Regions from separate parts of the Homo sapiens genome. Here all the other regions are linked to region 2. Evidence: fine-mapped QTL for protein levels in blood plasma. A gene starts in region 2. Each other region holds a variant in brackets. All regions are shown on one strand. Distances are from middle to middle. Region 1 has its middle 29 kb from the start of CALB1. Region 2 holds the start of CALB1 (calbindin 1). Region 3 has its middle 600 kb from the start of PARAIL.

Evidence for each region. A credible set is the group of variants that fine-mapping cannot tell apart. PIP is the chance, under the fine-mapping model, that this variant and not a neighbour inherited with it causes the effect. The UK Biobank Pharma Proteomics Project read protein levels with antibody pairs (Olink). The fine-mapping took linkage between variants from a reference panel, not from the people measured, so its PIPs are less certain.
Region 1: its variant is the best candidate, but not a certain one, in a credible set for the plasma level of the CALB1 protein (UK Biobank, PIP 0.72).
Region 3: its variant is the best candidate, but not a certain one, in a credible set for the plasma level of the CALB1 protein (UK Biobank, PIP 0.52).

What each region holds. Positions count from the first base shown.
Region 1 is chr8:90,108,246-90,116,437 of GRCh38, reverse strand. No RefSeq gene overlaps it. Among named protein-coding and RNA genes, the nearest start is that of CALB1, 29 kb to the right of the region's middle. The variant T/C (reference allele first, on the strand shown) is at 5,083.
Region 2 is chr8:90,078,415-90,086,606 of GRCh38, reverse strand. It overlaps CALB1 (calbindin 1), which reads left to right and starts at 3,728. Exons shown (of 11, transcript NM_004929.4): 1 at 3,728-3,988; 2 at 4,505-4,581; 3 at 8,160-8,192. The coding sequence starts at 3,910.
Region 3 is chr8:89,152,522-89,160,713 of GRCh38, reverse strand. No RefSeq gene overlaps it. Among named protein-coding and RNA genes, the nearest start is that of PARAIL, 600 kb to the left of the region's middle. The variant T/C (reference allele first, on the strand shown) is at 4,669.

The DNA of each region.
Region 1 (8,192 bases), 30 kb before region 2:
AAAAAAACAAAACAAAACAAAACAAAATACCACTGCTTTGCCACTTCTCTCATTTTGCAATTCATGATAACTGCAAAGGGAAATAATTTTTCCTTCACTGTTTATGCTTTACACCCACCAATGTTAATGAAAATGACACTTGAGAACAAATGCCAAATTGGTCTTTAGTGTTGCTGGAGCCCCCAATGTGGCTAGCTGAAAATATGCATAGCTGATGACATGGCAAATAAGTCTCATTGGGGGTAATTCCACAGCTGAATAACAACAGATTTGCATTAGCAAATTCTAATTACACTGACTAATTTCCTTATCATCCCCTATGGCAATACAGACCTTTTTCAAGTTCACAGGAATCAAGAGATGAACTAGTTAACCTTTTAAGGGTGTGTACCTTAGTTTTTGGGGTTTTTTCCATATAACACTTTATTGAGATGCCCATCATATAATGTATTTGCTTTTGAATCACATTATATTATTTCCATAATAAAGAGCATTTGGAATTACACAATCCAGAATCTCCAGTATTTAAGAATGCTATTACCTATGGATCTCCCTAGTTCCAACATGTGGCTAAAATAAATATATTCTCAAAGGATAATTATGACTTCTCAGATACAGACAAGTGCATAATGGAATATTGTATTACATACATGTAGGCAAAAATTTATATTTCATTAATTGAGATCCAAATGTTCGTAAATCATTCCAAATACTTTGTTATAAATTCACACACACATTTATTTTATATAAAGGCCAATGCTTTCTTTTTTCCTGTCTAGGATACAGAAAAATTATGTGGGCTAAATATCAGAAACATTTTTATAACTGATCATGAAGTTTTTAGCAGGCCAAACACAATATAAACATCGTGAAAACACAGCCCAGCCTCCTGGGCTCTTATAAGCTACTTCACACTCCTTTACAACCCCACATCCTCCCTCTGCTATTCTTAATCTTTACTGTGTAAATAAGAAAACACTGCATAATGGAAGGATCATGGAATACATCTTCAACCTGTGATGCCTCAATGCCACAACTCTCTTCACTAAGGAAGACTTTCTGAAGCTGCTGGTTTCCAAATATCAGATATTTAGAGTTGAAAGAGACCTTTTAAATGTTAGTGCAATCCCTTTTCTGATTTTTTAATTTCGTCTACAACAGCTAATGACACAGAATATTCCACTTACTACGAATCCCACTGTCCAGATTCCATTTCTGGACAGTTCTGACTTTCACTCTTTTTCTCAAATTTTGAAATTAAAATCTCTAAATGTTTTATCCATTGGCCTTAAAGATAACTCTTTAATAAAAGGTGAAAAGGCATACAGATTTTTTAGAACACTTTAAGTGCTAAAGAAGCCAACAACCCAGAAAGCCAGTTAACAGGTTAAAAAAAAAAACAAGAACAGCCAACTTTTTGTAGCCAAAGGATCAAAAACAATGGCAGCCTAACAAAACAGAAGACTTACTACAACCAACCAAAGAGAGAAAACTATGGCACACCCCAGACCTGCCAGCAAAAGCCAAGAAAGGAACATAGACTTCCACTCTTATCCAGCTATAACAAGGCACCCCTCCCGCTGGGGGGTGGGAGGTTAATCAGAGAAGTTGGAGTTGGGGAGCAGGACTTTCATCCCACCTGACAGTAACTCCCACCCACATGATGTCAGTGGAAGACACATGTGGGCAGTAAACAGCCTCCCCTTCCCTCCCAACCAGAGTGGTGTCAATGCAGCCAGCAAGGAGGTTTGATTCCCACCTATATCCACCAACAGAGAGACACTCTACCCCTACTCTAGGGTTTCAGTGGAGGCTGAGGGGAGACTTGCACTTCTACCTTCCAGAGATAGTAATGAGGCTGCAGCCATGTTTGCCCAGAGCTGCAGTGTCAGAAAAGACCTACTACATCATAAGATTTAAATCAAATCCACAGTGTCACTACATCATGCCAAAAATATGCAGGATACAATAAAAAATCTCCCATCATACCAAGAATCAGGAAAATCACAACTTGAATGAGAAAATACTATCAACAACACCAACAGAGAGGTGACACAAAGGGTAAAGTTATCTAACAAAGATTTTTAAAGCAGCCATCACAAAAATGCAAAGAAATAGTTCTTGGCAAAGAAATAGGAAGTATAAAATATAATGTATAAAATAGAACCAAGTGAAATCTCATAAGACAAAAAAAAAATCAAAAAATCTCAGCAACAGCCATAATATCAGAATGGAGAGGACAGAAGAAAGTATTGGTGAACTTGAAAACAGAATAATTAAAATTATCCAAATTAAGGAATGGAGAGAAAATAGACTGAAAAAAAGTTAAACAGGGTTTCAAATGGTACTATAACAAAAGATTTAACAGTTGTGCCATTGAAGTCCCAGAAGCAGAGGAGAAAAAAGGTAGGCCTGCAAAAATAATGAACGAAACAATATTATAGTTGAAAACTTCTCAAATTTGGCAAAAGATATAAACCCACGTATTTAAAAAGCTAAACAAAATCACAAACGAGATAAACCCAAAGTAATTTACGCCAACACATATCATACTTAAGCTTTTAACAACCAAAAGACAAAACAGTTAAGAACATCTACAATGTTAAAATAAGGGAACTCCAAGTCTGAAACCAGCAAAGTATGATCTTGCAGCTTAGTTGAATCATAAATATTTAGATGGGGAGCAAAGAACTAAAATTAAGTGACTGATAGTGTAAAGAAATTGTAGGGTTAGGGAGATTCTGAGGATGGCTAATGGCTGAGGTGGGGAAGGCTGGAAACGTCATAGAGGATATAGAGGATATATAACTGGTTCTGCAAATATTAGTTGTAACATGAGCTTCGTTTCCTAAACTCTTAAAGAGTTGTGCTAGAAAATTTCAAAGATCTCTTCTATAATAATACTAAGATTCTAAGTTCTGCTCACACAAGACTGAAAGTATCCCATAGTAAAATGAGCTGCAGATTTTGTGAGTATAAAAGCATGCATTGGAGTTGAGGAGGTAAGGTTCAGTTGCAGCCTACAAAAGGAAAGGTTATAAAAAGTATTGCTGGGTTACAATAACCAGTACATCTGCTTGTCTTTTTATCTGTAGTCTCCATCCCAATATCAGATCTATGCTGATCTAGTCTCTAGCAGTGAGTTCTGGGATGAATGGAACCAGCTTGAACTGGCTCTCAAGAGCCACTTGTTAAATATCCAGAAAAAAACATTTTGCAAGCCAGTTGTTCAATTATCGGTAGCATACAGCCATGGTGGGAGTATTTACACCACAGAAATGGGCAAGTACTACAAAACAGAGCATTTTATTCCAAGAGCAGTTTACTAGCATACCACTGAATGGCAATTCTTCTTCCACAGGCTATAGATTTATTCTTATTTTGGCCCCTGCCTACCTCTCCAACCTCATATCTCACCATCAAACTCCGTCCATTCCCCCACATTAAATTCTCTCAGCAATACTTAAAAGATGCAGGCCCAGAAGGACCTTATGCTCCCTCTAAGCTCTGTGCTTTTGTACATGTTGTTCCCTTTACCACCACCACCATCACTACATCCACCATCAGCACTAACCCCCAAATCTACCTTCGACTCTACTTTTGCCTACATAATTCCTTCTTGTGCTTAGATACCATCACATCCAGGAAACTTTTCCTGCCACGGTTGACTGGATTAGGTACCCTCTGTGTTCTCCCATAGGGCTCTATAGTATCTTTCTATAACACATATCACATGGTGTTGAAATTCCTTGTTTACTTCTCTGTGTTTCTAGCTAAAGAAAAAACCCCTTGAAAACAGGGAGCGCCTGATTTAGTATTGCATCCCCAACTTATATACAGTGGAGGGCACATAGTGATTGCTGAAAAATTGTTGCTGAATAAAAACTTTATTAACAAATTCCAGACCAGTATTTGCTGTTCAGTTTCATTATCACCCATGAAAAACATTTCCAATTATGTAAGTGGAATGGGTTAGAAAATATGATTTGCTTTTGGAAAGTCAGTTGAAATTCAACTTCATTAACGTAAATATATTTCATAAAGTGAAAAATGGCTCTATATATGCTCACATATCTACATATATACTTAGTGCATGTTTATCTACTTATAGATAACTCTGCTTATCTTCAAATAATTTTTAAACAATGCTTATCATCATTAACATTATAATTATTGGTGCTTTAGTTAATTTGCATTTCCATGACACCAAACACCACGGTGCTGAGTGCTGTGCATATAAGAACATTCTAATTGCTTTCCATCTAACTAACAAGATATTTGTTTAGTGCTCATCAAGACTCTCCCTGGGCACATACATGATGTTAAAAAGGAAAAAAAGAAAAAACAATGAAAAACAACACTTTCCTAGAGGAATTAAATCTTTCAATCTGATTCAGCTCTGCGTATACCAAAACTTCATTATTCCCAGAAACAAAATAGAGAAGAATCCAACTTTCCAATGCTCCCTAATGGCCAGGGAACATTCTTAATGTTTTGTTTCCTGAAAATGCAAACACAAAGATCTTAGAATAAAATTTGTTTTGTGTCAGATGGATTTTCAGTGTTTCTTTCTCTCTTTTTTTTTATTTGTTACTGATTAGCATATTTTACTCTCATTTTTGTTGAGACCTTAAAATACTCCTTTTTCATCTCCCTTGAAGACATTTTTCCCAGGAGATTTATTGATTTTGTGCCATAGCTAATTGAAAGGGGTTTTGATAACCTAAGAGTCACTGAGACTGCACTCAGCTTTGGCAATCACAAAGTACCTCAAAAATGTACTTATCGCTTATGATCAACAGACCTCACTTTGCTTCATGCTGGCATTGTTTGCGATGTGGAAGTCAAAAGGTCATTCAAAATGGCACCTGTGGTTAATGAATTATGACCCATGAATGGAAATTAACAATAACCATCCAATAATCATGCACCAGTAAAATCACCATGGAATTTTTCTAACATAAAGGGCATGGGAATGGTTGCCCTAGTCAATTATAATGTATCAGGATTAGATGCATCTTAAGATAAGAATCTTGAGTCTAAATTGAGCACTTTAATATGTTAACCTTAATAGATGCTTAT[T/C]ATAACTGCATTAAACACCAGCTACTTGAACTGGCTAGCATCCCACCAAGCACTTTACATATGGTTCTTTTTTAATTCTTACAACAAAATGAGGTAGAAACCACCATTTTTCAGATTTTAGAACTACTCTTGACCAAGGTCACACAATTAGCAAGTAGCAAAATCAAGATTTTAAGTAGGTTTTCCTAACTGCAAAGCCTGTGCTTTTTCGATTACCCTGCAGTGCTTAATCTGGGATAAAAGTTATCTTTTAATGTATAATAGGATAACATTAAAAAATGCTGAATTGTTTAAACTCCCCAAACTCTCAAAAAGAGATGTAAGTCCACTATTGATGTTGTTATGAATTTTACCCATGTATGCTGTTCTATCTCCCTTTCTACATATTCAACTTCAACCCACATCCTCCCTAACACTAGTTAAACCAGAAATGAATGCATTTGGAATCTACTATTTTTCTTTCCCTAAACAAAACAAAAAAAAAGATGACATTTTGGGCTGGATGACTAAAAAATTTATTTTAAAGAAAACTGAAACTAAAAAAATATACAAAATATTTTTTATATTCTGATATCCTAGCTTTCTCATGTACAAGAACAGTTAGTTGGCATACCGGCCTGCTTCATGCCCACATTTACAGACTGTCATCCCTGGTAAAAAAATTTTTAATCATGAAAACAGACGAATTGTCTGTTAGCATAAGTGACAGTAAGACGTCAGCATTTTTTTTCTTTTATTGACACAGCTATAAACTCTTTTTTCTTAGAGGGTTCATTGGAAAAAGTAAAAAGAAGCCAGAGTTAAATGCCCACTAACATGTAAACCAAAAGTACATTCATAAAATACGACAGCATAAACTGGCTCCTTAAATTTTTTTATACAGGAGAATCTGATTGGATGGAGCGACTGGGAAACTTGACTTAAAACTTGACTGAATAGCAAGTAGACTGAGAATTACGTACTGGGGGTTGTTAAAGCCCCAGGAACTTGATTATAGCTACTGAAGAAATTTCAAAGTAAAAACAAAGTTTCCTCTCTTCCAAAATTCTAATGATGGGTTTTCTGGTTTTGCGTGTAAGGAGCTTGGAAACGACCACTCCATCCAAACAAGTAAAAAGTTAAATAGATTGAAAAAACAACTCTTTTTGTGTATGTAAGAGCAGTAAGGTCACTAGATTAAACTGCTGATCCCAAAACTGGAGAAACAGACAGGCTAAAAGAGGGAGTCACAAGTTTCTGGAGCAGAGAATGACAAGTGGAAACTGTGGAAAGGCAGGAAAACCTGAACTGTAATTGACAAGTTGCTGGAGACTCAGTGCAGACAAGTCTGAGGGTTAAAAACTCCAGAGAGACACCATCAATGGGCACCCCCTACAACACACACACACACACACACACACACACACAATATTGTCAGATTCACCTCTAAGAGTTCCCAGATTTCTAAGTAAATATCACAGAAAAATCCCCTCTTGCTCTTCGCCGGGGTGGGGGAAATTGAACCATTCTGAAATAAGCCAGAGCACTCTGTTCTTCTTAACAAAGCCTGCCCTCAGGGGAAACTAGTTAACCAGACACTAACTTGCTGGGGTATTATCAGAGCCTAGCTGACCTGGGGAAAAACAAATCTCTAACTCCAACACACTCTAGCCTTCTATGTGAAGGAAGAGAAACACCCAACTCCTCCAGCCCACTCTAACCATCCTATCCAACCTAAGGGAGGAGGAAAAAACCTGAGAAACATTTGTGAAGTTCACAGGCCAGAAGCACAGGCTCACTAAAAGACTGAGACATATTCATGGAATTATAGAATGCTTCCCTTCCCCACACACCTTGCCACCACATTATTAAAGGCCTATTTATAGCAGTTTTTCTACCCAGTACATGATGTCCAACTATCAAAAATAAAAAAATTATAGGGCACACCAAAAGGTAAAAAACACAATTCAAAGAGACAGAGCAAGTACCAAAGCCAGACATGACTGGGATATTGGAATTATCAGACCAGTAATCTAAAACAACATCAATGAATATGTAAAAGTTCTAACGGATAGACGGCTTGCAAAAACTGATGGACAATGTAAGTAGAGAAACAGAACTCCTAAGAAGAAACAAAAAGAAATGCTATAGATCAAAAACACTGTGACAGAATTAAAGTATGCCTTTGGCAGGCTTATCAAATAGATACAACTAAGGAAAGAATCTCTGAGTTTGAGGATATATGAACAGAAACTTTTAAAATTGAAAAGCAAAGAGAAAAAAAGTGAAAAAAAACCAGACTATCCCAGGACTATGGGACGATAATAAAAGATGTAACGTACTCATAATGGGAATACAGAAGAAGAAACAGAGAAAAGAACATAAGAAATATTTGAAACAATAATGTTTGAGAATTTCCTCCAAATTAATGTCAGACATAAAACCACAGATTCAGGAAGATCAGAGAACACTAGGCAGGCTAAATGCCAAAAAACAAGCAAACAAACCAAAAAACAAACTACACCTAGGTAAATCATTTTCAAATTACAGAAAATCAAAGATAAAGAAAAAAACCCTGAAAGAAGCCACAGGAAAAAAGCACCTTACCTGTAAAAGGAACAAAAAGAAAACTTGTATTCAGCTTTTCCTCAGACACTGTGCAAGCATGGAAAAATTTGAGTGAAATATTTAAAGTGTTGAGAGAAAAAACACCAGCCTAGAATTTTGTATCCTTTGAAATTATCCTTTAAAAGTGAAGGATAAAAGAAGACTTTCTCAGACAACCAAAAATGAGGAAATTTGTTGCCAGTACATCTGCCTTGCAAAAAATGTTAAGTTCTTCAGAGGGAAGGAAAATGATATGTCAGAAACTCAGATCTACATATAGAATAGAAGAGCATTGAGGAAGGAATAAGTAATGTAAAATAAACATGTTATTTTCTTAGTCTAACAAATGTTTGTTCAAAATAACAATAGCAACAATGTGTCTAATTATGTACACTTTTTATATATATACTTATGCATGCTAATATATGTGAACTGAATGACTACAATGAATCTGGGAATCAAATGGAGGAATTAGGATTATTTTGTTACTATAAAGTACTCACACTATCTATAAAGCACTATGG
Region 2 (8,192 bases):
CATCCAATTAAACCCATAGTAAAATATTTTGGAGGGTTTTCTTTCCTGAGTGGAGGCTAAGAAAGCATTCATTAAACCTGGGAAGTTCTAAGTCTTCCAATTTGCATAGTGAATTGGAACTGTGGTAGCCTGAATATGAATGGAGATGTGGTAATTCAGTAACATGAAATGGGAAATGCAGTTTAATTACCCCAGAGATTTTTTTTTGGAACATAAATTGCTTCTACTTTTGTAACAATATTGGATTATGAACCCATTCACCTTGATGTTGTGTAATGAAGCCTATAAAGCAAGTCATAAAAATGCTTTGTTTGCAATGCTGTTTTTAGAAACTCCAATCTTATGGAAAAATCTTCTCATTATTGAAAGCATTTGTAGTCTCCCCAGAATCCTAGAAATTAAAAGATTCCTGAGCGCAAGGTCCTTCCTACCTAGTTAATGAACGAGGGAAGAAATATTCCTCAAGTTACCTCAAATCTGTAGATCTGGATTATACAGTTCTTTACTACTACCATAAAGTATAATTTAATCTAGAAATGGCCCAAATATACATCTGAAAAGAGATATTGATTTGAAGTGACAGTCCAGGACCAATAACAATTTTAAGGGAAAACACTTTTTATGAAATTACATTTCTGCCATTAGAAAAAATATCTGAAGAATAACAAGTTCACCTTAGAAAACCAAAAGGTAAATTTTAAAAAATTAATATTGAATGAAAATTAAAGGAAGAATAACAATCTACTTTTTACTTATTACATTAGTATAAAGTTTAAAAAGCAATAACATTCAGAGTTAATGAGGATAAATCATCCTCAGACTTTGGACATTTGAGTATAAATTGCTACAAATTGAAGCAAATAATTTGGAAATGTGTATTAAAATCTAAAATATGCATTCTATTAACTAAAAATACTGCTTTTGGGACTCTGCCCTGTTGTATTCAGAAACATGTATAGCTAATATAAATGTATAAAGGTGTTTATTGCAGCATTGTGTGTCACAGTGTACTACTAGAAATAGATCCGTATATCTGTAATTATAGTTAATTAATAAAATATTAAACTGTAAAAAGTATACATTAGATGTTGATGTTAATACTGGAGGGATGCCCTTGAATTAATAATAGAAAGTTGAAGGATAATATACAAAACATAGTCCCTTTTCTGTAAAACCAGATAACAACAACAAAAAAAAAACCTTTAGATATGGATTTGTATATTTCCATAAGCATGGCTCTTTTAGTGTTGATTACCTCATGGTAGGGGCAGCACTAAACTGCTTTAGAGCTCCATAATCTACATTAGTTCCCTCAAAAGCCACTTCATATAAACATAAAAAGAACACACAAAAAAAACTATGTCCAAACTTGCTGTTTGGACATAGTTCCAAGGAAGTCTCCCATTTATTTCTCACTCTCTCTCAAGTCACAGCACCTATACATTTCTAAATGGAAATTTGGAAGTTGCCATAGCTTCAGGAAAGTGAATAAGAAAAAAGATTACTTTCATATAAATATTTTTAACTTTTACAAATTGTCTTGTAATACTTTTGGAAGTTAAGATAAAATTCTAAAAAACCAACAAACAGATTATGGTGAAAATGTTTAGGAATTTTTACCACAGTGTGTGGTCTCTTTTTAGGAAGAAAATTAATTTTAATTACTTTTTAAAATAGTAGAAATGTTGCTCTTTTTTCATCAGTTTGTTCAGTCCATATTCCTACATACTTTTTCTAGCATTTTTCTTTGTCTCAGAACTGTATCCAAAGTCTAGACATTGTTAGCTCTGTCAAGACTAGCAAGGGTCAGAGTGATTCTTCAAGTCATTCCTTAGTCACTGCATTCTCACTCTCTCTTCAAAGTTTATTCTCTAGCGCTGGTCTCCAAGTTCACACACTATATTTTTCACACAGCGACCCTGGCCACTAACATAGGACCAATAGGACCATCAGTGAGAATCAGATGAGGTATCATAAGTAAAAATAATGTATGAACTGGAAAGTACTATGGAAGTGAGGATTCCATTAAGAAGATTATTGAAATAGGCTAGCTTCAAATTGATGGGTCTCTGAAAAGGATACTTACAAAAAAACTCCACAAATATAATAATGGATAGAGCCCTAATCTCAAAAACATAAATTTGAGGGGTCCCAAACTCAATTACACAAGGTTAAGAATATAGAGCTTGGTAAATTCTCTCTCTCTCTTTTTTTTTTTGGAGACAGAGTCTTGCTCTGTCACCAGGCTGGAGTGCAGTGGCGTGATCTTGGCTCACTGCAACCTCCGCCTCCCAGGTTCAAGCCATTCTCCTGCCTCAGCCTCCCAAGTAGTTCAGATTACAGGTGCCCACCCCCATGCCCAGCTAATTTTTGTATTTTTAGTAGAGACGGGATTTCACCATGTTGGCCAGGATGGTCTCGATCTCGTGACCTTGTGATCTGCCTGCCTCGGCCTTCCAAAGTGCTGGGATTACAGGCGTGAGCCACCGCGCCCGGCCGGTAAATTCATTTTAATTCACTTTAAGCTTATATTGGCTATGTGTAGATTTTCTCTTGTTCCTTCATTTTGTTTTAGTACAATTGTAATTAGACTTTTGGGATACATTTTTAGTGGACTTCAAGGTCCAAAAGACTCAAAGCCAAATACTCCAGAAGTACTTATGTAAATAAGAAATAATCCAAGTATATAATTAATTATATTAAAATACATAACACATATACATATGTATATATAGTACAGAACATATATACATATGTGTGTATACATACATATATATTACATATATATATATATATATATATATATACATAACATAGCATACATTTAGTTAGATAGCTTTTCCAACTCTGATGGTGACTTCCAATTTCTGAAAAATTCTCCAGTAGGGGTTGCTTGAAACAGAAAGAAGGAGACGTGTGTGTTAAGGCGACTGAATGGGGCTGTGGTGGTAGCACTAACGTACCTACTTATGAACCTGGTCAGATCCTTCCTTTCTCTTTGTTTTAGTTTACTCACTCCTTCTAAACTGAAAGGCAGTAAACTCTAGTATCTGTAAGATGACTTCCTTATCTAAGATTTTAAGGTTTTATAATTTAACTGTATTACTTTCCAATTATAATTCTACTTCATGCTGAAAAGAAATCCATAATCTAGCTTTTTTCGTGTTGGCAAGGTTAGTTCATAGAAACCATCTTAAGAAACATTGACATGATGGCACAAAATAGAGTGATTATTGATAGCAATCAACTCATTGTATACATTAATCAAATTATTCTAATGCGTGCCAAGGTTTCACATGCTTTTTTTTTTTCAAACAAATACTGAAAAGTCTTGGAGAAATCACACAAGAATATAATAATCTTTTATGTGATTTTACCCGTCATCAGCTTTCCCCTTCTATCTGAACATTTAAACCTCTCTAGATAACAAGAGTTTTACTATAATATTCAGGAATAAGATTCTTCCTGGACTAGGAGGATGTAGGGGGAAATGAGCCTCTGTTTTCAGCATCCAATCTCTGAGCAAAGGATCTCCCACCACCTGCTGCTTCCAACAAGCCCAAACTCTCGCTCCAGCTAGCTTTCCTGGGAACAGAGCAGAAAACTGGAAGGGAGGGGAAGAAGGCTGGTGAGAGCAAGAGGCGGGGAGTGAGGAATGGGAGGCTGGAGGAGGCGTGGCCCGGCTTGGGGCCGTCGGGATAAATACTGAGAACTGGGTGCGGGGTGTAGGGAGAGAACTCTGGAGGAACGCTGAGCTGAGCAGCACCGAGGACAGCGCCCGGCAGCGCCCGCGCCCAGGTCTCCCTCCGCAGCCCTGACTCGCGCACACGCTGAGCTTTTGCTCACTCCCCCTCGCGCGGACACAGACACACGCATATTCACACACCCAGACACACACCCCGCTGTACAATGGCAGAATCCCACCTGCAGTCATCCCTCATCACAGCCTCACAGTTTTTCGAGATCTGGCTCCATTTCGACGCTGACGGTGATTATCTTCTCTTTTTAACTGTTTCAAGACCCGTTTCCATGCCCCTTCCCATTCTTTGCCCTTTTCTGAGCCTCCTGATCCCATTATCCCTCCTTTCTATTCTTTACTTCTTCCCCCTTCTGCCTAATCTTATCTTCTTATCTCCCCGACTGGCCGCCAAACTGTCAACCTGAAAGTTTATATTGTTTCCACCGTAATCCCAAAACCTTAAACTTTTGTCTTTCCAGGAACGGTAATGGTAGGAGAGAGAGAGCAGGGATTGGGGAATGCTGCCCCCCCAAAGTTTCTGTGGCTGCGCTTAGCACCCCAACCATCCTCCTTTGTCCTCAGTGGATCTAAAGTTTGATACCCCAGGAGGGGAGCGCTTCACCGTCTGTACACTTTGCTGGTTAATCAACGTCCAGGCAAGAGAGAGCCTCTCGGGTCGCCAGAAAGATAACTGTCTTGGAAAGTGAACGGGAAAGACACTTGGAATGAGATATCTGACACCTGGGTGCCTCTTTGTCTTTGCAGGAAGTGGTTACCTGGAAGGAAAGGAGCTGCAGAACTTGATCCAGGAGCTCCAGCAGGCGCGAAAGAAGGCTGGATTGGTAGGTTCAAGTTTGCGAAAAAGAAAAAAAGACTTTTAACCCCCAAATTAAAACATTCTTGTGTTTTCACAAAAAGCCAGTAGCGTAAAGCGCTTTCTGGGTAATGTAAACGTTTATTGACTGCGAAAGGCAAGAAAAAACACTTTTCCAACTCGAATACAGAGAAATGGGAAAGGGGAAAGAGACTGAGAAAGAGAGAGGGGGAGAGAGAGAGAGAGAGAAGGGAGGGACAGAGAAGGGAGGGAAGAAGGGAGAAAGGGAGACAGACAGAGAGAGACAGATTTTCTAAAGGGAAAAACCTTGCTATCTGAAACTGGAGCTTTAAATATATATATATTCTATACTAGTACTTGCATTAATAGGTCTTAAAAGGGAACTGTGGGTGCATGAGATTCTTTAGCGGATCACCACCTCTACCACTGAGTTTGATTAGGTAATTTTTAAATTCTCTTTTACTGTGTGAGAAATAAGGGGGTGGAAATGCATTTCTGCCCCTTGGTGGTCAAGAAACAGATCTGCAGATTATGGATCTCTTACTCTATCACCAATTATTATTGTTGTGATGTTGATGTAGTTGGGGAGATGAGAAAACATCTTGTCCTCACTAAGGGTAAGTTGCCCAACTTGCAACCTAACAGTGAGAAAGAATTTAGCAAGAAAAGATCTTCATTTCTGTTGAAAGCAAGAAACCCAAAAGGTAGAGAAGTAAAAAGTAAAACAATTTTAAGAATTTCATGTATTGTAAAAAAAGCAAAGTGATACTCTGATGGGCAGCAATTGATGGTGTTTTGAAAATGGCTATGTTCGTTATTTAAGCCATTAGTTAATTAAACAAATAACCATTCTTATTAATTATAAATGACTCCCTTTGGGCATAAATTAACCTGTTAAGAAAATATGTTGTCAGCATAAATATAAAATACAGTCAGCTTTTAAACATAGATGAGATGGTTGTCCAGAGGAAAATGGGTTAAAAATTGTACTACTCTATTGAGGTTTATGTAACACTGCCTTTCAGAAGGCAGTGTTGAATTGGGATGAGTTACACGTTAATGGTCTTTGGCCTTTTTGACTACGTTTAGAAAGAGATTTTACACTACCAATGATGTATATATTATATAGCAGATCACCACCTCTAATATTGAGTGATATATATAAAATTTAATAATAGAACTTTTTGCCCTATCTAAATTGAAAATTGTGTAATATACATTTCTGTACAGCATATTCAAAAGAATCCCAGAGGGCTCTAAATGTATTATAATGCACTATAGAACTATCAGTTACAAAAATCATTGACCAAATTGATTTTAAACCAGATTGTGCTCTAGGGATTGTTTTACCCAGATTTAATATTATATAATCTAAAAGTATAATAGAACGGAATAAAATAGCATAAAAATGTTTTATATACTCTCCACCCTCCCCATGTCTTATATATTGCCATGTAAATAAATTTATGCAATACTGTCATTATAGCTTTATATATCTTTGGCTAATCTAATAAAAGCAATTATCTTCCTCATTTAAAAATACATATTTTAAAATCAGGTTGGAAAAGTCTTACTTTCCATAAAATTTAGAATTAAAACCTTGGAAGATGCTTCCAGCAGGTAATGATTATATTTTATTTTGTGCAGAAGTAATTTTAATATTGAAATCTATTTTCAGCTTAGAAATTTAAATATTCATGAACTTTAAAAAAATATTTTTCTTCCTCTGATTTTAATATTTGTACCTTTTTGTAAGCAATATCTTCATGTTGGAGATTTAGAATTTAATTATTTTTCTCTGTTTTGGAATATTCAAAGCTCCAATTATTAGACTATAATGTAATGATACTAAACAAGCATAGTTATAGGATTATATCAAGTTGCTTAATACCTTGATTCTTGAGCATTTTTCTGGAATGTAAATACAATCTGGATTTTTCTGAATTTAGTATTTTTCTTGATTTGGGTAGTTAAAATCTAAATCAAGATGTGGATTCAGAGTTTCATATAGTAGATACATGTTTCATTATACTACTAACTTCATTGCATTAAACCTACTTGTATATATTTCTTCTCTTTCTTTAGAACATAAAAATTGCCCTTATAAACCAGGCTTTTTGCATTTCTAGCCATAGGATAACAGATTTCATTGCATTAATGGAAACATTGTTTGGCTTTTCGTATTAATAACATGAAATTTCAAAATTTTCACTAGGTGAATATAACATTAATTAAATATAACAATGCAATATATTTTCAGAAACTATCCTTTTACACTAAACATAGTGTTTGGTCTTTGTAGTTGCACTCATTTTTATACATTTTTAATTGGTGGTGATTATATGTTTTGCACTGTTTAAAAAATAGATTTTGACATACTTGTCAGAAACTTCACAAAGTAAATGTCAAGTCTGCTCGTGAAAGTAGTGGTATTACACCATTTTAAAATTTAAGGACAGATGCTTTGGTTTTTGTTTACGTTAAGATGTATGTAAAAATAAAAAAACTGTAGGACCTGATATTCCCACTATTGCCATGGTTGAACACTTTCATTTTCTTACAATTGTTTCTATAACAAAATTAGATAAATACAAATTGTAATTTATCCATAGTAAGTTTTATAAAGACTAAAATATAATTATATTGCTTTGTTATTATTTATTATCTTAGTTCAACTAAAGATGTCTACATTGGTTCCAAACGGCTTTTATAAATACTAGTAATAATGATATTTAGTCTCAATATAGCCCTTTAATTATATTAACCTATCTATCCCCAAAGCAAACTTGTGTGGTAGATAATACCACCATCTTGTTAGCTATGATGAAAACCGAGACCTTAATTTGCTTTCCCAAGGACGTAGAATAGAACATTAGTAAGGGCTGACCTATTTTAAATAGGCTTCAGCTAATGCAACAGGGCTATTTTAAATGGGCTATGTTGGAGACCCAAGGGTAAAAATTAAACCTCCTGAATACCAGTTCTATGTTCAGATCACTAGTTTATAGTTCATAGCTCTCTAATCTATTTAATTTTTAAATTTATTTAATTGATGAATGCCTCTTTTATGCTTAAAACAATCTTTGCTTACAAAGTGAGTTAATCTTTAACATTCACATTTTTTGCTTGTTCAAAATGAAAACATATATTACTCTCCATAGATAAAACATTATGTTAGAATGAGAAAAATGTTGTAAGACAAGATAGTGTAGCAATATAAGGTAATCTTTAATGAAGCAAGCATTGTTTAAAATATATTGATGGTGATGATTATGTTAAAATTCACTAAAAGTTATGAATGGAATGATTCTGACTACACTTTCAAAGGATAGCATAGTCTCAAAATTAATAATAGAAGATAAATCATATTAATTGAGAAATAATCATGATTACAACTCTTTCATTTGGAACTAATAAATACTGTGTATCAGTTATGCCTTTAATTTTTTTGAGAATAGTTAATCATTATGCATATTTCTAAATGGTTCTAATTTTGGTTTTTCTTTGCAGTAAGTTATTAACACCATCACAAGCATAACTGGTATTTTTTTAACAAACCTCCTACCTGCTTTTATATAATTTTAGGAGTTATCACCTGAAATGAAAACTTTTGTGGAT
Region 3 (8,192 bases), 930 kb after region 2:
TCCAGGAGTTCTGTTTTTTACTTCAACCTAAACTAAGGCTGAGGGAGGCATGCTTTTTATTATTTTCTTTGTCAGTTGACAGATTATTACTAGCCCACACTTTCATGAAGGATGTAGGTCTTCAACGTATGTGTGTTGTATGTAGTGACTGGATCTTTGGATTGTCTTGACTGACATATTGAGAGAAGTAGAAATGACTCATAACAATTTCATGGTTGTAATTACTGGATAGTACATTGATTAGGAATATGGCACAAGCATATTCTGGGAGAGGCTGAAAAACGTACTACAACAAAAGTGTACCATGATCACATGAGTTTGGCAAACTCGGCTTTTTTATTATAAGATTTTATGTCCTGTCATTCTTACATTTACATCTTTAATGTGAGTCCTATTTCCACTTTCCTGACAAAGACAACCTTTCTACTAGTGTGCTGAAACTTATTTTAGTTTCCTATTTTAGGAATTCTCCCTTTTCTTTCCTGAATTATCAGTTATCCTCTTTCTATTGGATTATTCACATCAACATAACATATTTTTATTTCTCCCTCCTTAAGAGATAAAAAAAGCCCCTCTGTCTTCCCAACCTAATTATATGGCTACTGATCCTTTTCTCTCTCTTTGTTTTATATGAAAAATTCATCTATGCTTTATTCAAGTCTCTGCTCTCATTCTCTCTTGAATCAAGTCTAGACAGACGTTTTTCTCTACTTCAACAGAGGCTGTTTTTGCCACTCTTAACAAAGTTTTCACATTGCCAAATCCAATAGTCAGTTTTCATTCCTCATTGTACTTTTTAGAACCCTCAAGGATAAGGCAGCAGTTTCTCTCAGGAATTTAGATTTTTAACACATCCTTCTTTGCGTGACTGGAAGCCGTCTGTGAAGCTTTTAGCCATTACATTTCCCTGATGTGATTGCGATAGCAATTTCCCTGTAATTTTTAGCTGTACACTGACACACAGAGTTTGTAGGAAATAAGAAATCTATAGGTTCTAAAAAGCTTTGGCCTCCTAGTTAAAACCTGAACACTATTAAAAGTGAGAGTGGCCATTTATACCAATTACGTATTTTTTTATTTTAGCTTTCCTTTTGTGACTGTAACTAATTTTAAGAGTAAGACATATGGTAACCATCTCTTGACTTTCATGCCATTGCTTTCTTCTACTTCTGGAGAGAACACAACATAGAACAGGGTCATGCTACCAATTCCATCCTTTTATGTTTCACTTCCTTGCATAGTTCATGGGTGGTGGCAGCTGGAGAAGATGTTCCAGATCATCAGTGGCCCCTTTTAGGAATAGGTAGCACTGGTATTAGGAGGTTCCAGATTCTGAAACTCAGTGATGCTTATTATTATATCCATCTAAGTACACCATGGGTAAACACAAGGCTGGAGCTGAAAATTTAGGAAAAGAGGCAGTCCAAAAATAGTTTCTGTACTCTAGAGAGATAATCATAGGTCCTGAGATTGACTCTATTTGCACAATAAGATATGATAAAGTACATTTTAACGTGGGAAGCACAATATGGATATAAGGACATGTCCTGATCATGAAGTGGAAGTGTGATGCCAGAGCACAATGTGAGCACTGAGAAAACCAGACAAAGTTTTATTGGACAAGCTCTTTTTATCGTTACTGTTTCTCTTCAGTGCCTGCTGACCATGTTATAGTGAACCTTAATGACATTATACTCATGTTTTGTTATTCCAGTTCTTATTCTTCCTTCCTTCAACATCTCAGACTTAAAATTATATAACAGCCTCTTAACAGCACTGGAACATTTTCACATGACTTCATTAAATTTAAAACAAAATGTATTGAGATGCTACTATGTGAATTACATCAGTTTGAAACTAGACATAAGTCACTTCCTTTTAGAAGTTTAAACTGTAGTGGTAGTATTATATCAAAAAAACTTTAACTTTTTTTCTCTTTTTTCCTTTTTGTTATTATTATTATTATTATTATTATACTTTAAGTTTTAGGGTACATGTGCACAATGTGCAGGTTAGTTACATATGTATACACATGCCATGCTGGTGCGCTGCACCCACTAACTCGTCACCTACCATTAGGTATATCTCCCAATGCTATCCCTCCCCCCTCCCCCCACCCCACAACAGTCCCCAGAGTGTGATATTCCCCTTCCTGTGTCCATGTGATCTCAATGTTCAATTCCAACCTATGACTGAGAATATGCGGTGTTTGGTTTTTTGTTCTTGCGATAGTTTACTGAGAATGATGATTTCCAATTTCATCCATGTCCCTACAAAGGACATGAACTCATCATTTTTTATGACTGCATAGTATTCCATGGTGTATATGTGCCACATTTTCTTAATCCAGTCTATCATTGTTGGACATTTGGGTTGGTTCCAAGTCTTTGCTATTGTGAATAATGCTGTAATAAACATACGTGTGCATGTGTCTTTATAGCAGCATGATTTATAGTCCTTTGGGTATATACCCAGTAATGGGATGGCTGGGTCAAATGGTATTTCTAGTTCTAGATCCCTGAGGAATCGCCACACTGACTTCCACAAGGGTTGAACTAGTTTACAGTCCCACCAACAGTGTAAAAATGTTCCTATTTCTCCACATGCTCTCCAGCACCTGTTGTTTCCTGACTTTTTAATGATTGCCATTCTAACTGGTGTGAGATGGTATCTCACTGTGGTTTTGATTTGCATTTCTCTGATGGCCAGTGATGGTGAGCATTTTTTCATGTGTTTTTTGGCTGCATAAATGTCTTCTTTTGAGAAGTGTCTGTTCATGTCCTTCACCCACTTTTTGATGGGGTTGTTTGTTTTTTTCTTGTAAATTTGTTTGAGTTCATTGTAGATTCTGGATATTAGCCCTTTGTCAGATGAGTAAGTTGCGAAAATTTTCTCCCATTTTGTAGGTTGCCTGTTCACTCTGATGGTAATTTCTTTTGCTGTGCAGAAGCTCTTTAGTTTAATTAGATCCCATTTGTCAATTGGCTTCTGTTGCCATTGCTTTTGGTGTTTTAGACATGAAGTCCTTGCCCATGCCTATGTCCTGAATGGTAATGCCTAGGTTTTCTTCTAGGGTTTTTATGGTTTTAGGTCTAACATTTAAGTCTTTAATCCATCTTGAATTGATTTTTGTATGAGGTGTAAGGAAGGGATCCAGTTTCAGCTTTCTACATATGGCTAGCCAGTTTTCCCAGCACCATTTATTAAATAGGGAATCCTTTCCCCATTGCTTCTTTTTCTCAGGTTTGTCAAAGATCAGATAGTTGTAGATATGTTGTGTTATTTCTGAGGGCTGTGTTCTGTTCCATTGGTCTATATCTCTGTTTTGGTACCAGTACCATGCTGTTTTGGTTCCTGTAGCCTTGTAGTATAGTTTGAATTCAGGTAGTGTGATGCCTCCAGCTTTGTTCTTTTGGCTTAGGATTGTCTTGGCAATGTAGGCTCTTTTTTGGTTCCATATGAACTTTAAAGTAGTTTTTTCCAATTCTGTGAAGAAAGTCATTGGTAGCTTGATGGGGATGGCATTAAATCTATAAATTACCTTGGGCAATATGGCCATTTTCATGATATTGATTCTTCCTACCCATGAGCATGGAATGTTCTTCCATTTGTTTGTATCCTCTTTTATTTCATTGAGCAGTGGTTTGTAGTTCTCCTTGAAAAGGTCCTTCACATCCCTTGTAAGTTGGATTCCTAGGTATTTTATTCCCTTTGAAGCAATTGTGAATAGGAGTTCACTCATGATTTGGCTCTCTGTTTGTCTGTTGTTGGCGTATAAGAATGCTTGTGATTTTTGTACATTGATTTTGTATCCTGAGACTTTGCTGAAGTTGCTTATCAGCTTAAGGAGATTTTGGGCTGAGACAATGGGGTTTTCTAGATATACAATCATGTCGTCTGCAAACAGGGACAATTTGACTTCCTCTTTTCCTAATTGAATACCCTTTATTTCCTTCTCCTGCCTGATTGCCCTGGCCAGAACTTCCAACACTATGTTGAATGGGAGTGGTGAGAGAGGGCATCCCTGTCTTGTGCCAGTTTTCAAAGGGAATGCCTCCAGTTTTTGTCCATTCGGCATGATATTGGCTGTGGGTTCGTCATAAATAGCTCTTATTATTTTGAAATACGTCCCATCAATACCTAATTTATTGAGAGTTTTTAGCATGAAGCGTTGTTGCATTTTGTCAAAGACCTTTTCTGCATCTATTGAGATAATCATGTGGTTTTTGTCTTTGGTTCTGTTTATATGCTGGATTACATTTATTGATTTGCGTATATTGAGCCAGCCTTGCATCCCAGGGATGAAGCCCACTTGATCATGGTGGATAAGTTTTTGATATGCTGCTGGATTCAGTTTGCCAGTATTTTATTGAGGATTTTTGCAACAATGTTCATCAAGGATATTGGTCTAAAATTCTCTTTTTTGGTTGTGTCTCTGCCCGGCTTTGGTATCAGGATGATACTGGCCTCATAAAATGAGTTAGGGAGGATTCCCTCTTTTTCTATTGATTGGAATAGTTTCAGAAGGAATGGTACCAGTTCCTCCTTATACCTCTGGTAGAATTCGGCTGTGAATCCATCTGGTCCTGGACTCTTTTTGGTTGGTAAGCTATTGATTATTGCCACACTTTCAGAGCCTGTTATTGGTCTATTCAGAGATTCAACTTC[T/C]TCCTGGTTTAGTCTTGGGAAAGTGTATGTGTCGAGGAATTTATCCATTTCTTCTAGATTTTCTAGTTTATTTGAGTAGAGATGTTTGTAGTATTCTCTGATGGTAGTTTGTATTTCTGTGGGATCAGTGGTGATATCCCCTTTATCATTTTTTATTGCGTCTATTTGATTCTTCTCTCTTTTATTCTTTATTAGTCTTGCTAGCGGTCTATCAATTTTGTTGATCCTTTCAAAAAACCAGCTCCTGGATTCATTGATTTTTTGAACGGTTTTTTGTGTCTCTGTTTCCTTCAGTTCTGCTCTGATTTTAGTTATTTCTTGCCTTCTGCTAGCTTTTGAATGTGTTTGCTCTTGCTTTTCTAGTTCTTTTAGTTGCAATGTTAGGGTGTCAATTTTGGATCTTTCCTGCTTTCTCTTGTGGGCATTTAGTGCTATAAATTTCCCTCTACACACTGCTTTGAATGCGTCCCAGAGATTCTGGTATGTTGTGTCTTTGTTCTCGTTGGTTTCAAAGAACATCTTTATTTCTGCCTTCATTTCGTTATGTACCCAGTAGTCATTCAGGAGCAGGTTGTTCAGTTTCCATGTAGTTGAGCGGTTTTGAGTGAGATTCTTAATCTTGAGTTCTAGTTTGATTGCACTGTGGTCTGAGAGATAGTTTGTTATAATTTCTGTTCTTTTACATTTGCTGAGGAGAGCTTTACTTCCCAGTATGTGGTCAATTTTGGAATAGGTGTGGTGTGGTGCTGAAAAAAATGTATATTCTGTTGAGAACTCTTATTTAAGATGGATTGTGATAATTAAAAAAAAAAAAAAGAAAAACAGCTATAGTACCATGAGAATACTAACAACTTTCAAACCTCTATGGTGACTTTTAATACTGACACCATGTACCTTGTGAAATGGGTATAGGAATAAGACCCCAAACAAAGGGAGAGTTATAAGGATTCAATGAGATAATCTATGTCAAGTGCTTAGCAATGTTCCTAGATCAGAGTGAACAGTCACTTGAAATTGGCTTTAATTATGATTTTGGTTTAATTTTTATTTTGCAAGCCTTTTTGGAGGAATCTCTTCTTTTGTTTTCTGAAAGATGAGCAGAATTGGAGATTTACTCCTCTGTGTTTCTGTAAGCCCTTGCATATGGTTTTATTATAGCACTTCCCACACTATTATAATTGTTTGTTCAATTATCTGTCTCCAACAGACAACAAAATGTGAGCTCCTGAAGAGACGGATAGTGTTCTATTTGTTTTCAATTCCCGAAGTTTAGCACAGAGCTTGATGCACAATAAGAGGTTAATAAATGTTAAATAAATGTTATTTAGTTTTTGTAATTGTGTTGTGTTTTCATATAGAGTGGGCAACAGTGGCATAGATTGCAATATGTCCTCAAATCTTATTGGCATAGTTATTTTGCTGTCATCTGTGGCAGTGTTTCAAAGATTCAGATGTATTTTCACACTTCTTTTCACCCTGTGAGCAATCTATCCTTTATTAGCTCACCATAAAGAAATAAGTTTGGAATGCAGCTGTTCTCCATTAGCCCCTCATAACGTACTCACTGAAACTGAATCTCTGTGAATGTTGTCCTTCCTTCAAAGGTATAAAAATATCTGGATTTTGGTTAGTTGCAGGGATAGAGGGTGGGCAGTTGTGCCATTGATTGGGACATATGAAGCAGGAGAATCTAGTTCTCATTCTGGGGAAATGCTCTGAAGCCTCATAATTCTTAGCTTCACCCAGAAAGGTAGGCAATTTCATTATGTTCATGCCACACTTTTTACTGCTTCTTTACTGAATTAGTGTACTTCACTTGGAACTCACTGGTAAAACTGGAGAAACGGGTGAATGTTCATTTTTCTAGATTATTTTAATAAAATAATACATGTAAAGATGTCCTTTGAAATATGAAGCAGTAGATCACACAACGTAGTGACAGTGATAGTGTAACCAATCTAATTGTATTTTGAATACAGTCTGCTTCTGAAGGAAGTGTTGCCCTTGCAAAATTTTAAAACTTATCTCTCAGTATTTTTGAGTTCTTCAGGGGTTGTATTGCCTATCCACAGATCCAACATTTGTGAGTTTCTGTGGGGTGGAGTGACTGGTCTGCTTCCTTTGTCATGGAGGTGTTTCCTCTCTCCATGCTGCTCCAAGAGCTGTGAACTCAACTGCTGCTCAGAAGACTAGTTGGTGACTAGTGACTGAGCTCTCTGAATGCCATACTGCATGGTGGTGTGAGTATGGAGGTAATGGAGAGATGGCTCCTCCCTTCCAATTCCACTCTTGGAGGAATTGAGGTGCCTTAATGCGTTGCACAAATTCCTGAAACAGAGTGGAGGGAAAAGTTCTGGGGACCTATTCAGGTGAAAAGTATTGTATTAGTCCATTCTCACACTGCTATAAAGAACTATCTAAGACTGGGTAATTTATGAAGAAAATAGGTTTAATTGACTCACGGTTCCACAGGCTGTACAAAAGAATGGCTTAGAGGCTTCAGGAAACTTATAATCATGGTGGTAGTCAAAGGGGAAGAAAGCACATCTTACCATGGCAGAGCAGGAAAGAGAGAGAGAGAGCAAGGGAAAGTGCCACACACGTTTAAACAACCAGATCTTGTGAGAACTCATTCGCTATCACAAGGACAGCAAGAGTGAAGTCCATCACTATGTTTCAATCACCTCCCACATGGCCTCTCCTTCAACACATGGGAATTACAATTCAACATGAAATTTGGCTGCAGACACAGAGTGAAACCATATTAGGGATCTTTGTGACACCAAATGCTACCTCTTCTCTTTTGTTTCTGAGACAAGATATTTGTGTCTGGATATTTTGCCACTTAAGATGAACAGTTGTGTACTAAGAAGGCCTTCCATCTCTGGTCTCGACTTCTCCATCCCCTAACAAAGTGGAAAAATATATATATTTTAGTTGGGCTGTGCTGACAGTCATACCCAGTTTGTATCTGATTACAAGTAATATTCTCAGCTTGGATCATTTTTTTTTTCAAAGAAGTAGAGAAAATATTTTTTATTTATTTTTATTATTATAATTTAAGTTCTGGGATACATGTGCAGAACGTGCAGGTTTGTTACATAGGTATACACATGCCATGGTGGTATGCTGCACCCATCAACCCATCATCTATATTAGGTATTTCTTCTAACACTTTCCCTCCCCTAGGCACCACCAAAAGGGCCCCGTGTGTGATGTTCCCATCCCTGCGTCCATGTGTTCTCATTGTTCAACTCCCACTTATGAGTGAGAACATGCGGGGTTTGGTTTGGTGTTTGGTTTTCTGTTCTTGTGTTAGTTTGCTTTGGTTTATGTTCTTGTTCTTTCTGTTTTTGTGTTAGTTTGCTGAGAATGATGGTTTCCAGAATCATCCATGTCCCTGCAAAGGACATGAACTCATCCTTTTTGTGGCTGCATAGTATTCCAAGATGTATATGTGCCACATTTTCTTTATCCAGTCTATCATTGATGGGCATTTGGGTTGGTTCCAAGTCTTTGCTATT